Regions from separate parts of the Homo sapiens genome. Here region 2 is linked to region 1. A link means that fine-mapping ties the variant in region 1 to the expression of a gene that starts in the linked region. Tissue or cell type: blood mononuclear cells. Region 1 holds a variant in brackets; the other region holds the start of a gene. All regions are shown on one strand. Distances are from middle to middle.

Evidence for each region. PIP is the estimated chance that this variant, and not a neighbour inherited with it, causes the effect.
Region 2: it holds the start of LAMA2, and the variant in region 1 is fine-mapped to the expression of LAMA2 in blood mononuclear cells (TOPMed, PIP above 0.99). The same link has a PIP of 0.9 or more in whole blood.

The regions. Positions count from the first base shown.
Region 1 is chr6:129,277,084-129,285,083 of GRCh38, forward strand. LAMA2 (laminin subunit alpha 2) reads left to right here. Exons shown (of 65, transcript NM_000426.4): 18 at 2,978-3,064. Among named protein-coding and RNA genes, the nearest start is that of LAMA2, 400 kb to the left of the region's middle. The variant C/G (reference allele first, on the strand shown) is at 3,956.
Region 2 is chr6:128,878,084-128,886,194 of GRCh38, forward strand. LAMA2 (laminin subunit alpha 2) reads left to right here and starts at 5,055. Exons shown (of 65, transcript NM_000426.4): 1 at 5,055-5,274. The coding sequence starts at 5,163.

The sequences.
Region 1 (8,000 bases):
CCCTATTTGTGGAAAATGCCCGCTGCTCTTGGCTTTCTTGTGTTTCCTGTGGCGTGGTTTGGATAATCCGGGATGAAGAACATTTTCTGCTGGTGTGGAGCTAGCCAAATAGAGTTAAATGACATAATCTTGGAATCACTTGAGGTCAATGATGATCTCACAATTTCCTCTTTGTGTCACGGAACAATTAGCTTCATGTCTTGGCCAAAATTAGTGCTAAGTGACTGCATTTGCCAAGGCAAATTCTGTAGATGTTTTTTATTGTGCATGTTTATTTCTCACTCTAATTTTATTTTTGTTGTTGAATGCCATCTTCTGCCATAGCTGTAACTGCAATTACAGCAATAAGAGAGTGAATCTTCAGTTTATGTTGTTGAAAGAATATCAAAGCACAAATACAGATATATTTTATGAGAAAGTTTTATTTGGATGCGTTATGTCGAGTATCTATATTACTAGAAACTTAAACTTACTTAATTCTTACCAGTAGGTTTCAATGACAATTGGTTATAGGAAGAAGAGAATATCACATTAAGAATCTAAAGTCCTAGATCCCATACTAAATTCTCCTGGAAATTTTGTATATGACCTTGGTTAAGAAAAACTGTGCCTGCCCTAACCAGCTCATAGGATTTTGTGAAAATGTGATAAAATTGTAAAAGTATTCTGAACTGTAAGGAGCTAGTCAAATTTAACATATTTTTATTGCCTAATTTTTTTCTCGAAAAAGTGTTGATTTTTGTCAGTGAGCACCTTTTACTTATGTTGGTTTTAACTGACATGTGAGTGTATTTAAGAATCTGAAATCTATTTTATGAATAGCTTTAAAGTGTCAAGGCCAGGTGCAATGGCTCATGCCTGTAATCCTAGCACTTTGGGAGGCCAAGGCAGGTGGATCACTTGAGGTCAGGAGTTCAAGACCAGCCCGGCCAATATGGTGAGACCCCATTTCTACTAAAAATACAAAAATGGGCCAGGCCTGGTAGCACCTGCCTGCAATCCCAGCTACTCAGGAGGCTGAGACACTAGAATCGCTTGAACCCAGTAGGCAGGGGTTTCAGTGAGCCAAGATTGCACCACTGCACTCCAGTCTGGGCAACAGAGCAAGACTCTGTCTCAAATAAAATAAAATAAAATATTTTTAAAAATGTCAGAAGCCTTGTCAACCACCATTGACAAGAGTTATGATAAACTGATTTAGGATTATAAAAAACAATTGGTATGGTTTTCTTTCAATCAGTGTAGTCCCACAGAGGTGGGAAACCCAGTGCTTCTGGTTGGAGTCAGTTTCTCAGTAGATGATGAGATAGTTACAGAATGCCAATTTTCAAAGAAGACATATATATGCTACAGAGATGCAGTTCTCACTTTTATGTCTGAAAACAGTAACAGCAAATCACCGGATGTGGATGAGAGGAAATCCTTTTTTTTTATTTTATTTTAACCTGTGCATCTTCAGTGCAATCACAATCCCGTCAAGAAAATCACCCATAGTGAACTGTCTTTGGGTCATGCGTAGCAAAGTACAGGATGCTTTATAAAAGGAGATTCTTTACTCGCAGTGCACACGCTGGGTATGTCTTGTCTGCTGTTCATCACAGCTACCAGAACTCCTTAATGTGGAATCTTTGATCCAGATAATATTTATAAATTCAAAGCATCCCAGACCAGCCTTTATCTCCTTGACCCAGCAGATTCATTTAGACTTTCCACTGAGTTGAAATGTTTAAAATGATAGACTTACCTGGTCCTAATACCTTGCTAGTATCCCAAAAATAGGAAGAACTATTAAATCTTTACAGAACTACCCTGAGTTAAGCCAGAGAAATACTATTCAGAAATAGTGTTCATGATCTGATCTGCACCAAAGTTAAGAAAGTATTTCAAAGTAATTCAAGTGTCAGGAGCAGGATCAAATCAGGACTTGGAATGTTTAATTTGTTGTTATGTCTTTAATTCATTTAGCCATCAAGCAAGTCTCTATTGAATTGCCCTGTCATATATAATAGAAAACAAATCTACTTAGGGAAAACATAATAAGAGAAAGATTAATTGAGGGCATTTCCCTTTAAAACGGTAGCGCAACAGACCTTACAGAATTCAAAATGGTTGATGGCCCTTCAGAGAGCCAGTCGAGAACGCATTACCGTGTGTCAATCTTGGGGTAGGGGTTCATGTATGAGAGGTGCCTCTCACAAGGCAAAGAAGCATGGCTGGAGTGAAACATGTTGCTGAAAGCTAAAGCTAGCACCTGAGTTCTCTGTTGGTTCTTCATCTGGTGTTCAGCTCTATTGCTTCAGACCCAAATTAGAAATATGTGCAAAGAGAGAAGTGAATTTTGAAACATGCCAGAGGGTATGAGATGGCAAGGTTGCTTTTGTTTGGTTAGGTTTATGATAAGTTTAGGTAGAATATGCACACTTGATCTCTTCTGAAAGCTTTCCTGAGGATTCCATCAGTGTGAGGGCATACCTGCAAGGAAGCACATGCCGCAGCCTGCACACAGGCACGCCCCACTATGGCAGTAGCTGAAGAAGGAAGCACTGCCACCACCACTACCACATACTGAGATTTCCAAAATCACTAACAAATTTCTCCAGGCTGCTTCAAATTCAGAGGGATTTGGCTACAGAAGAAAGTATGTGAGGCTGCATATGTGCCAGGCCTGGAGGAATTTCTAAAAAGCAGCTATACATTTCCACTTGTTACTGATGATCACTACTCAGAGCAGTCGAAAGTCAGTTAATAACATGTCACAGGGATACTGCTCTCCACTGGGCTATATTCACGTCTGCAGAAATAGCAATGTCATTTCATCCTCCATTGGCCAGACCCTAATCTCTGTCTCTGGGGTGAGAATGACCAGCCTGTACTCTTTTGTCAGAGCAGTAGTGGAGAGAGAGAAATGAGAAAATGCTAATGACTTTGTGTATGTCCTTCTTCCTTGTCCCTGTTTTCCGCAACAACATCAACATAGCTTTAGCCCAACGTGCCATTTAGACCGGAGTCTTGGATTGATCTGTGATGGATGCCCTGTCGGGTACACAGGACCACGCTGTGAGAGGTAAGAGTATACTACACTGTCTTGCAAAATGATTTCTACCTTGGGAGTTATAAAACCGCAGATACAATCATCCTTTGCATCATCCTTTGGAGAAAAAAGGCCACACTCAATGAGGTGAAATAAAGTTTCTCAACGCACTTGTCAAACAAATGCATTATATTTTTGTAATTTATTTATTTTTCAGAAATTGCTTCATAAATCTTCATTCACTCAGAGAATATCTGATTAATGTTTTAATCTTAAAGGTTAAGTATTAACCTACAATCTTTGTAGAAAGCATTGCTCAAGTGGAAAGTCATGCACTTTAAGATTTATCTTACTGTCTGTGTAGGCACCATTTATTTTTCATAATTAGCTTTTTGTCCTTAAAATGTAGCTTAAATGCATAGTTCATAGTTCAGCAAGTGGTTCATAATTTACTTTAAATATACTTGAAAATAGAAACAAAATGTAATTTATTATCATGATTTATATCCTCTTCTAATTGCTCCTAAACCAGTATTTTAATTCCTGTTGATTTTACTGGGTTGCTTTGCAGCAGAAACAAGAGTATTATTTTATGTAATTTGTGTGATTATATTTCCTTCTGAAATGTTTTTGAAGAAATAATTCTTCTATATATTCAGCCTCAGCATAAAAGTGATACAAACTTCCCCCTTGACATCATTGCCAAAAACAAAAACCTCCCTCTGGTTTCAGCACTGGAAATAGTCCCTGCTGCCACCCTTCCTGGGAGGGAGGGGTGCAAAGGAAGTGACCTACTTTCACTCATCATCACTGAGGCTAACCCTGAAGAGGGCTGTTTCTGCCCGTCTTTTCCTGTCATCTTGGCAGCTATCACCCCTGTTTCAACCAGGATGCATAAAATTAATGAAGCAGGAGCCTATCACC[C/G]AGAGAGAATTTAGCTAGCAACTAGCAGTCTGTGGACAAAGTGCCAATGACAGTTCCTAGCAGCAACAAGTACTATTTGTGAGTATGGAAGCATCTGTAAATTAGGAATGAAAGAAAAAAAAATGAAACAAGCAGCATTTATTTGCAATCAAGAAACTAGATATCTTTAATTGTGTGTGTGTGTCTGTGTGTGTGTTTAAAGAAAGGCATGTGCATATTACTTACTATAATAGGAGAACATATCATTGCCAAGACAGATTTACATCAAGTGCCTAAACCCCCCAGTTCACTACAGGCAACCTTTTTTTAGCAACTGGAAAATGACAGCTGCTCTGTCATACAAGGCTATTAAATCCACTTATCTAGGTGAGCATAATCTCTGATGTACTTATATTGCTTTGCTTTATGTACTATACTCCCTATACATGTTAGACAATAGTTTCTGAACCATCTATAATTTAAAACCCTACATTTTATTTAACAAACATCTGTTTAGCAACTACCATGTGCTGGGTACAAGGCTAGACATTGGATATAAATAGATGCATTTTCCCATCCTTGCCCTCAGCACCTCACATCTTTCTTTAATGCAAGTGAGGATGGTTGCTTGTATTCTTGGGAGAATTCCATTTGAATAGTAAAAATCACCAAGGAGAGAAATACCTGACAGAAAGTATGATTTCCTGTCTAAAATCTGTATTAATCTGATTCAGAAGATGGCAACATGCATATGCAGTGTAATGAATGGCATATTTTATCTCCAGCTCAAGTTTTTCCACAGTTGATACCATATTTTTCTAGCCAGAATTTAGATTAGGGTTTTCCAGGAATATTTAAGATTTATAATTTCATTGTATTTATGTAAGCCAAAAGAACACCTTAGATAGATCTAAAATATGAGGGAAACATTTTTTGTTTGAGATGTGCCTGTTGAAGTAGAAGAGAGGGAAGATAAGGGTCAGGGTAAGGAGGAGATACTGGTTGCATTAAAAATCTTGTAATCAAAACCATTCTGTAAGTGATTTGTGTGATCAGCTTATGCACATCATCTAAATAAGACCAGAATTTAAAAACTAAATCAACATTTCCCAAATTGTAGATGTTCCTGGAATAAAGAATTCTGTGATCACATGAGTTTGGGAAGCATCCATTTGCATGTTAAAAGTTCTGGCATGTCCTACAGTGTGTAATTAAGAAATCTGTTCAATTTGTTTAGCTCAGCATTTCCTAAACTTATGTGGCCATAAACCCTCTGCTTTAACTATATAGCAAGAATATATCTCAGACTACAGCTCAGGTGGGACAAGAGTTATAACTTTATAGTCTTTATCACAATTTAATTTCTATTTTGAGACCCCTTTCTCTATATGTGGGAACTGTGAGGTCTTAGAAACATAATCTGAGCCCATTTCAAGTTGTTTTCTTCTCCTCTCTCCCAGCTAGAATCAAAGTTCTATTAAGCTTACCTAGTACCAAAGGCCTTATATGCAAGGGTAGAGGGGAGGGTATAATGTCTGTGTGTATATGTTGAGCAAGGGGACATGTGATAGGGCCAGCCAGTACTGAGTATTTCACCCAAGCATGTTTCTGCTGACCTATCCCTTTTTCTCCGTCCTCCTAATTACCTTTCCTTTCAGGTCTAGAAAGTCTCTCAACTACTTTCATTCCATTCTTAGAGGCACAGGAATCATTCAGCTTCTTTCATTCCATGCTAAGACCCACCAACATCTCTACCATCATCATTTTTCCATCTGCCTTTCCAAATCCATCCCATTTTCTATTTGAAAAAGGATGAGCTACATTTGTGGAACTGGTGGCTTTCAGAGCTCGGGGTCTGGCAGATTCCTATGTCTCTGCCTTTTGCCCTGTCAAATCCCTTCATTCAAACATGTAGCACAAGATGGCCTTGCTTCTTGAATCGAGGGGGTGAAGAGAAACAGTGAACAGGGGAATGGCCAAACAAGATACAACAAAACATGGATTGGTATTCTGTCACAAGTTGAACACTAGTTACAGCTTGGAAAACATTCACTTAGGGCCAAAACACCACTATTTTTGAGGTATCACTGCTTTGCTGGGGAATGATTTAAACAAAGGAAAAAAAAGAGTCAGAGAGTGAGGGGAGAAGGTATTCATGATGATACCTTTGCTAAGATTCTAGACTTTTATCATCTGGACAAGAGGAGAACAAAAATAACAAAGAGACAGAATCTTGAAGGGCTAAAAGAGATTAAGTAAGCAATTGGAATATCAAGAGCAATTAAAAAGACTGTTGAGCTAAAAGTGAGTCAAATGCTGAGGATACCTGCCTGATCGGACACTAAGTTACTTTCAGAATAAGTTTGTAACCTCAGCAACATGTCATACATTATGGAGAAGGCATTTCAAAAAGGCAGGCAAGTTCATCTGGTGGATTCTATAGGACAACATGAAACTTAATGGGATACATAGACTTCTTAAGCCCTCCCCGCTCCCCAGCTGGCAAATTTTTAACAACTTCTCCTTAAGTGATGAGAGAGGGGTCAAAAGCCAGGACTAATCTCACAATTGCCACTGAAAATGTGGAAGGTGTTTGAATCTAATTGCTTAATATTTTGAAAATTCATCTACAGTTTTATCCTCAAGATTCATACTAGATATCAAAGAAATTCCTTTTTGTATCTTAAATTTCAGTTCCAAAATCCCATTTAGATTTTGTCTGCTTCAGAATGTCTGAATTCGAATCAAGTCTAATCACCCCTCTGCTTACTATGCTCATGGGACCTTCTATTCACTTGTGAGTCTCCTTGTGCCTTTGGGTCCTGAATGCAGAGCATGGGCTACAGAAATAACAGAGGAGGGGCAGTTATACCTACCTGTAGTACTGTTAGCAAAATTGTGACTCCAGTTGAGGTGTCAAGAGGCCACTCATATGTGGTTGTGCAGTTTGTACACTGCACAAAGGCACTCAGGGAAGGGGAAGATTGAGGGCTTGAATCCAGTTTACCCTCTTCTTTTCCATGAAGTCCCTGGGTGTCTAGTCTGTTTACTTTTTCTGCATATGTCTAGAAAGGACAATTTCTTCCAACTTGTAAAAGGCACCATGTGAGCAGGGAAACACCCTCAGTCTTTTGCTGATTATGTCAAATGGGAGGAAGTAAGAACACAGCATTACAGCCACGCCTCTTTATACAGCAGCCACCCTCTTCTGTGCCTTTGCCAATACTGTTCCCTCTGCCTGGAAGATTGCAGCCCTTTCACTCCTCCATCCGAGACTAACTAATCCCTGTTCAGCTCCCAAAAGTCAGCACTATCATCCTGAAAATGTCCTTGATTGGGCCTAATCTGAGTTGGTTGCCCTTTTGTGTGCTGCCATAATAGCATTTGCATATCTCCAGTTGTTCTACTGCTACGTTTTAAAATGTGTGTTCATTCTCCATGGACTGTAGTGTGAAGACTGTACCTTATTTGTATTAGTACCGTGTAAAAGTGCTCAGCTGATTTTTTTTAATGGGTTGGGAGAAACCAGAGCTTTTCTAATTTGCTTGGCTAGATTAAGCCAGCATTATATTGTTTCATTGTTTTCAGTGTATAGATAATAGAAATGTAGGCCGTGATTTTAGCCAAAAGTTGCTGAAAAAATGATGGGGCAGAATGAGACAAAAGTCTCATCAGTGTGGTTGCTTTCTTCTCATTGTTGCTTGTCTGCACGTCCGCTCTTTTTCTACCTCTCCCTCTCTCTCTTCCTCTCTCCCTCCCTCCCTCTAACATTGTTCCTAAATTATCAATAGCAGCAAGTGTAACAAATAACTGCATGTGTTATCTGGAGTCTTATTTACATTTAAACGGCCCTTTTTCAAAATATTGCAATTTGATTTGAAAAAGTTAACAGATGTGGAAAGGAACAATGCCTTTGTTATGTCAAGATATCCGTTTCTAGCAAGGCATTCATTCGATAAACTATTTTTAAAAATGCACTCATTCTGCCTTGCATATGAAAATGAGAGGGCTTGACATTTCACATTACAATTATTTTTGGTGGAGTGAAAAACCAAAGGACTGTGAT
Region 2 (8,111 bases), 400 kb before region 1:
AAAAATTAGGTAAGCCTGGTGGCACACATTTGTAATCCCAGCTACTTGGGAGGCTGAGACAAGAGGATAGCTTGAACCTAGGCCAGAGTGAGACTCTGTCTCAAAAAAAAAAAAAAAAAAAAAAAAGAAACCCAAAAGACATGTACATTCAAAACTATAAGGCACTGCTTAGAATATTAAACATGTAAATAAATGAAGACGGGCTATATTTGTGAATGGAAGTCTAAATATTGCTAAGATATCAATTATCCCACAATTTATCTGTAGGTCCAACCTCATTACAATCATGTTCCCTACTCTCCTTTTTTGGGTAGAAATTAATAAGCTGATATTTAAAATTATATGGACTTAAGAAAACTAAACATATTCTTACCATATGATCCAGGCAATTGTGCTTCTGGGTATTTACTCAAAGGAGTTGGAAACTTGTGTCCACACAAAAACCTTCACATGTGAAATATGAGAATAGTTATAATCTATAGTGACAAAATTAGATCAGCAGTTGCCTTTTTCTGGGAATGGAGGTTGGGGGATTTATTGCAAAAGGTCAGATGCTGATAGCAGTTGTATCAATAATTGTCAAAACTTGGAACCAACCAAGGTGTTTTTCATTAGATGAATGGATGAGTAAACTGTGGTACTTCAAGATAACGAAATATTTTTTCAGTGCTAAAAAGAAATGAGCTATCAAGCCATGAAAAGAGGAAACTTAAATGCATATTACTAAGTGAAAGAAACTTATCTGAAAGGCTATATATTGTATGATTCCAAATATATGACCTTTTGGAAAAGGTAAAACTAAGGGGACAGTAAAAAGATCAGTGGTTGCCAGTGTTTGGAGGTGGGGACAGGGAGGAGGCATGAATACGTGGAGCACAGAGGAATCTCAGGGCAGTAAAATTACTCTATATGATAGTGTAATGTTGGATACATGTCATTATAAATTTAATGTAATTATAAATTACATTAAAACCTAATGTAAACTATGAAATCGGAGTGATAATGATATGTCAATGTAGGTTTTCAGTTGTGACAAATATATCACTCTGATGGGGCATGTTGATAAAGGGGGAGGCTATGAATGTGTTGGGTCAGAGGTATATGGAAAATCTCTGTACCTTCTGCTCAACTTTGTTGTGAATCTAAAACAGCTCTAAACAATAGTCTATTAAAATTAAAAAATAAAATATTCAACTTCACCAATGAATAGATTTTTACCTAAATATTACATAATATGTGAAGAACCTAAAATAGTAAAGATAATTTTGTTTTGTAAAACAACATTATAGGATTTACCTTACCTAACTTTGAGGCTCACTGTAAAGCTACAGTAATAGAGACTGTGATAGTGGAATAAGGAGATATATATATATATATATATATATATATATATGCCATTATATATATATATATGCCATTATATATATATATGCCATTATATATATATATGCCATTATATATATATATGCCATTTTATATATATATATATATATATATATATATGCCAATGAAAAGAGAGTCCAAAAATAGACCCACACGTGGTCAATTGACTTTTGAAAAAAGATCCAAGGTAATTAGACGAGGAAATTATATCTTTCTCAACAAATGATGATGAAGTGAATGGATATCTACATGGAAAAAGAAAGCCCTTACCTAAGCCTCTACTTCACAGCAAACACCAAAATTTGCTGGAAATAAATCATAGACCCAACTGTAGAAGCTAAGACTATAAAATCTCTAGAAAAAAAATAAAGAAGATAATGTTCACAACTTTGGTGTAGGCAATGATTTCTGAAAGGGACAAAAAATATTAAGCATAATGAATGATTTAATAAATTGTATTTAATCAGAATTAAACACTTCTGCTCTTTGAAAGCACTCCAAATGCAAAGTCAAGCCACAGATTGAGAACAATACATATTATAGTAAATGTACTTGACAAAGGTCTTTTCTCTAGAATATGTATTTAAATCTTATTAATAATCTGGCAAACAAAGCAAAATGAGCAAAGATTTCAAGAAGAATTTCACAAAATAAGATATACAAATGACGATTAAGCACATGAAAATATGTTCAGCATCATCAAAGAAGTGCAAATGACACCACCAATGAGGTATCACCACACAAGCACTAGAATGGCTAAAATGTAACAATATTAGATGTTAATAAAGCCATAGAGCATCTGGAACTCCTATATATTGCTGTGGGAGGAATGTAAAATTATAAAACAACATTGGAAAAGAGGTTCACAGTTTTGTATAGCGCTAATTACATACCTGATAATATAACTCCTAAGACTTGATAGGAATAGAGAAATATAAACATGTCCATGCGAACACTGTGTTTAAATAATCATAGCAATTTTATTCTTCATAGCCCCAAACTGGAACAACCCAAATGTACTTTAATAGTTGAATGTATTAAAAAATTGTGATATATCCATACGATATAGAATGATAGATACTATTAGAATGATAGAATATTATTCAGAGATGAAAAGGAATGTATTACTGATATAAGCAACATGACTATACCTCCAAAACATGTTGCAAAGTGAAAGAAGCCAGACACAAAAGATTACTATTTTATTATTGTATTTACATGAAATATGAGAATAGTTATAATCTATAGTGACAAAATTAGATCAGCAGTTGCCTTTTTCTGGGAATGGAGGTTGGGGGATTTATTGCAAAAGGTCAGAAAGAAAACTTTTTGAGATTATAGAAATAGACTATGTATTGGGTACTTTGTCAGATGAGTATTTACATCTAAAAAATGTTTCAAATGAGCATATTTATTGTGTGTAAATTGTACCTTATTTAGGTTTATTTGGAAAAAATATAGCTCTAAATATACTGGTTCATTTTAATTTGGGTTAAATATTTAAGAATTTTTTCCATGTGCTGAATCAAACAAGTAGAGTTGACAGTGGAGATCATAGTCTTATTCTCAAGGCATTTTCATGTAAAATAGGAACTCAGGTAACTGCAGTAACTGCAGAAAAGCAGGTACAAATATTGATTATAAAATCCTGGGAAAATGTAAAGAGGAAGGGGATAGAGGGAACATGGTATATTTTCATTCCACAATTAGAGTTAGCAGCTGCATCATTCTGATTTTCCTTTTTATAAATATTTTTTATTATTTATTAGATTAACTAATTTGAGTTGAGGCCACAACATGGTTGAGTAAAAATAATCATTTTCCTTTTTATAAATATTCAATAAAACTTTTCCTTTTTATAAATATTTTTTATTATTTATTAGATTAACTAATTTGAGTTGAGGCCACAACGTGGTTGAGTAAAAATAATCATTCTGAGAATAGCAATAGGTTTAGAAGGTTAATTTAGGGTGCCTCTCTGCTATTAGATGTACCTGAAAAACACTTCTAGGCAAAATTAGACCAAATTAAAAACACTGGGGCTTCAATTATAATAAACTCTCAAATATAAGTTTTATTATTGTTTATTATAATAATAAATAATGTATAAGTGTGCAGACATGGGCAGACTACATTTTGCAAATTTCCACAGTAAGGTAAAAGGATTACAAAGCTTTCTGGTATAATATTAACAGAACTAAAAGACATGAATAATATTAAAGAATGGGCTTTGGCTAGTGATTTTCAATCAATTCTCTTCAAAGCAATACTCTCTTAATTTTACTGAAAGAAAATTCAACTTTAATATAATATTTAGATAAATCAATACATCTTAACTATAAAAAAGAAAACTATCTATATAAGACAATATGTATTTCAACATATAAATGCTTGGGTAAAACTTCCTTAGGAGGCAAAATAAAATAAAAGTTTGCACCTATTCTTAGATGACCCCAGTGTAATCGATGGGATGTTGATATTGTGCTGGTGACTCAAGTACCATGGGCAAGGTTGTTATCAGTGATGTGCTTCTCTGAAAGTACATCTTTACACCCATTGACAAATGGGTGTAAAATCCAAAAACACAAAGTAAATTATCTTCTCAATGTATATAGTAGATGCATCCTAGAAAAAAACAAACAAACAAACAAAAAACACACACAAAAATTTGATGTGGAAACAAACTTAAATTAGGTTTCAAATATAAGGCAAGGTTTTGTTGTTTTGTTTGTTTGTTTACTCACTACATAAATGACCAGTGGCCCATTCAGAAGTCTAAGGACAAAATATGTTGTAGGACTGTCCTGACCACTGAGGGACAGCTCACACCCTGACCCAACAGTACACTAATGCCTGCAGTACCCACCGTTCCCGGAGTAAACCAAAAGACATCCTGCGACTCACAAAATCCATTATGGAGTTGTTTTAAACCTTATGAGAACCACTGACCTAGGCCATAAAAAACAAATGAAAAAACAACAAAAACTAGGAATGGCAGTAGTTCTGTTGAGTTAAAGAGGAGAAAGAGGAGAAACCAGGACTGGAAGAGATGAAATTGTGAGTCTGGAAGGAAACTATTGCAAAGGCCTTTATTACCTTTAAGTAAATGTCTCCTAACTGAACTGAAAGCCTTCATTCTAACCATTAGTTTGGTCAGGAACATTTCAGGGACGCCAGGGTGGCTGTTTTATTTTGCACTTCCTTTACTGCCCTCCCAGCAGCCTACCTAGCAGTAAGTTCCCCAGCCTGCAGTGTCCCCAGAGGGCACCTTCCCTCGGCTAGTAACTTCTCAGACACTCTGGCCTTGGGGATGTCTTGGATCTTCTAGGTACACAGTGGCTGCACACAGTTTTGCCAGGCCTTTCTCAAGAGGTAAAAGTTCCTAGCTGTTTGCATTTCCCAGAAATAATGTTTTCCATGTGTAGGGATTTTACAGATTTCAAAGTGCTTTCATGTCAATTACTTTCTTTAATTTAAAAGAAGTTCAGATACCAGGTCAAGCTAGGAATGATCCGGTCTCAGAGGGAAGGAGCGCTCTAGGAAAGGAGGATCCTTTAATAGAGGGCCGTCCTGGGGCCGCGTGCCCATGGAAGGCGAGAGTGGAGGAGTGTCCTCTTTCTCCCCCACCCTCAGGCGGCGGCCCGGCCAAAGCCAGAGGGGGCTGTCTCCTCCTCTTCCCCAGCAGCTGCTGCTCGCTCAGCTCACAAGCCAAGGCCAGGGGACAGGGCGGCAGCGACTCCTCTGGCTCCCGAGAAGTGGATCCGGTCGCGGCCACTACGATGCCGGGAGCCGCCGGGGTCCTCCTCCTTCTGCTGCTCTCCGGAGGCCTCGGGGGCGTACAGGCGCAGCGGCCGCAGCAGCAGCGGCAGTCACAGGCACATCAGCAAAGAGGTACAGTCGAGGCATGGGCTTGGGTTGCATCCTTTGCCGGGACCGAGATTCCTCACTTCTTCCACTCTTCCGAGAGTTGCTGTCTGTGGACTGCCGTCTTGCTTCGCCTTCAGAGAGTGCGCTCTGGGGCAAGAGGAACTTGAAGCAAGTTCAAGTTCAATGCCATGAGAGCGTAGTGTAGGGGGAATTACCTAAGTCCTGCAAAAGGAACGGGGAGTGCTTTTCATTGTTCTTTAGTTTCGAAGAGGTCTTGCTATCACGATACATCCCGTAAATTGATTTCTGAAATCTTTCCAAGAGGAAAACTTTTTCCAATTGGAAAAAAAAGAATTTCTTCAAATCAGAGCCCATCCTGCAGAGAAAGGCTTCCCAAGCTGTGTGGTTCATCCTGGGACTTTATGGAGGGTAGCTGATGCATCAAAAAAAAATTATATATATATATATACACACACACACACACACACACACACACACACACATATATATATATATAAAGTTTTACAGAACTTTGTTTTCAACTTTTAAAACAGGATTTCTAAAGAAGTTATGTGGTTTTTTTTCTTTCATGGCAATGGCGCCTCCAGCCTCACCTTTTTCAAACCCACATCTTATCTTCATATCCTATTTTATTGTAGTGAAATCGTGAAATTTCTCCTTTTGCTTAAATACAGAGGAGACTTCTATGTCATGTGTACTTTAAGGCCACAGTGACTAGATATACACTTTGGAGGACTTTGGAAGATGGCTGTATTTAATGTAACTTAAATAACTTATTCTCCTCAGAGCCTCTTAGTGTTTATGTATATATAGCTCTCATTTCTGAAACTTTGGGGAGTCTTTGAAGAGTTATTTTATTATCATGAATTTTACAGGAAGCACATGTGCAGCATTGTAAGACATACTTTGTAACACATTATTTCAGCAAACAATTCTTTAAGTTGGAAAACCTGTATCAAAGTAAAAAAAAAAGAAATATTTATTATTCGGTTTTAAATATGAAAATGTTTAACCTAAGAGTACAAAATCTGTAGGTTAGAAGCTTTTAAAAGTTTTAATGAGGCTGAATCTGCTTAAGTTTTGAAGTATACTTATCCTTCTTCCAGTTAACTTCTAGCCAAGTCAATAGTTCTGATATTTGTTCTTATAATCTAGCATTTTTAGCAGTACTATTTTTTAAGGAGTAAAGAGATATCCCAAGCTCTTTCTATAATAATAACTCCCTGATTAAAATTCTTGGAATAAAAATGACCTTGCATTCACTATATAACTTTTTTCCTTCTATTTTTGCTTTTGCTTCTCTGAGAGGTAAAATGGGGCCAATATGACTTAATTAATATAATTTACGAGAGTGATTTTAAGAGTATCTCTGGCCACTTATTTTTAAAAATTCTACTTTTAACTATTAAACTTTGCTCAATTACAAGGTGTGTTTAAACAAGACATAATACTTTAATAATGTTAGGCAGCTGGGAGAAATGAGGGGCCAGGGGCACCAATCCTTATGTCCACTTGGAATGGGGCAGAAACTCAAAGCATGCAGAGTAAGGATCAAGTAAATTGTTGCTAAGAATTATCCTGAACACACACAGGATTTCTCTTTTTTCCTCTCCCTTCTTATTTACTCTCTTTTCAAATAAGGTAATATTAACTCTGATTTCTATGACCCAGGCACAAGATGAAGTGAATTCAGGAGGAAGGGTTTATACTACCATTCTGTCAAGATACCACTTAAATGCTACATACAATAAGGAATTTTATTCAAAATAGCTACAACATACAATCTACTATAGGCTGCTATAATCTGCATTCTAGTATATATTATTGTCTTTGTCATAGACCATTTACAATATATCTGGAGGTTGGCTCAAGGATAAATGACTTAAACCTGTTAATGTTGAAAGTATGTAAAATTCATGAAACTTTAAAATTGGATAGTGATTTATGATTTAAAAATGCCTTATGTACACGATCTTTATTCACCTTCAGATATTATTATTCTCAAAGGACAAATTTAGAACTTAGGCTTCCAGTAGTTGTAATTTAAGTTTACATAATAATAACTTTATTTCAACAACTAAAACACTTCCGGTATTGTTTGTGCTGAATTCCCTTTTTTATGGTTCCAAGGTTTCTTTCCATTAATTGTTTAGGCCATGTTTTCTTTTTAGTGTTGTTCCATTGAAGCAAGCCCTCTGTGAAAATCACGGGATATGAGTTTGACTGGAGAAGGGTTTTCCTGGCTATGATCAACTTTTCTGTTTTCGATTATACTAGCACTGACCTTTCTAGGCAAGCGCTAATTGTGTAGAAGTTCTATTTCCCCTTATAATTCGATACCACTTTATTAAGAATTTTTGACATGAATCAACCATTTTTAGATGTTGCAGTTGAGTTAGAAACATAACCAGACTTTTTGTTTTTTACTTTTTCTTTGAAATCTTATGTGGTTTCTATAGCATACTCGATTGTAGTATGAATAGCATTGATTCAGCAAGAATGATATTCCAAGGAAATTCTTTAGCTATATTTAAAATTGACGAAATAGAATGATGCAATCAAAATGATTCTGCATTTCAGCAAGGCAGTGTCTAAAATGTTTTCTGATATTCTTGTGAATAATATGTGGAAACTGAAGCATAATGGCAGGTAAATTGCAACTGATTGAAAAATAGTTCACAAAGAATATTGCATAGTGGATTAAGGTCAATCCGGAAAGAAGTCTCTAGCAGTGCAACAGAGGTTTTCTTATACTCAACTATCTTGGTAATGGCTTGATGGAAAATGTAAAATCCAAGCTTATCAGAACTGCATGTGGTCCAAAATTGATAGAGGTGGCT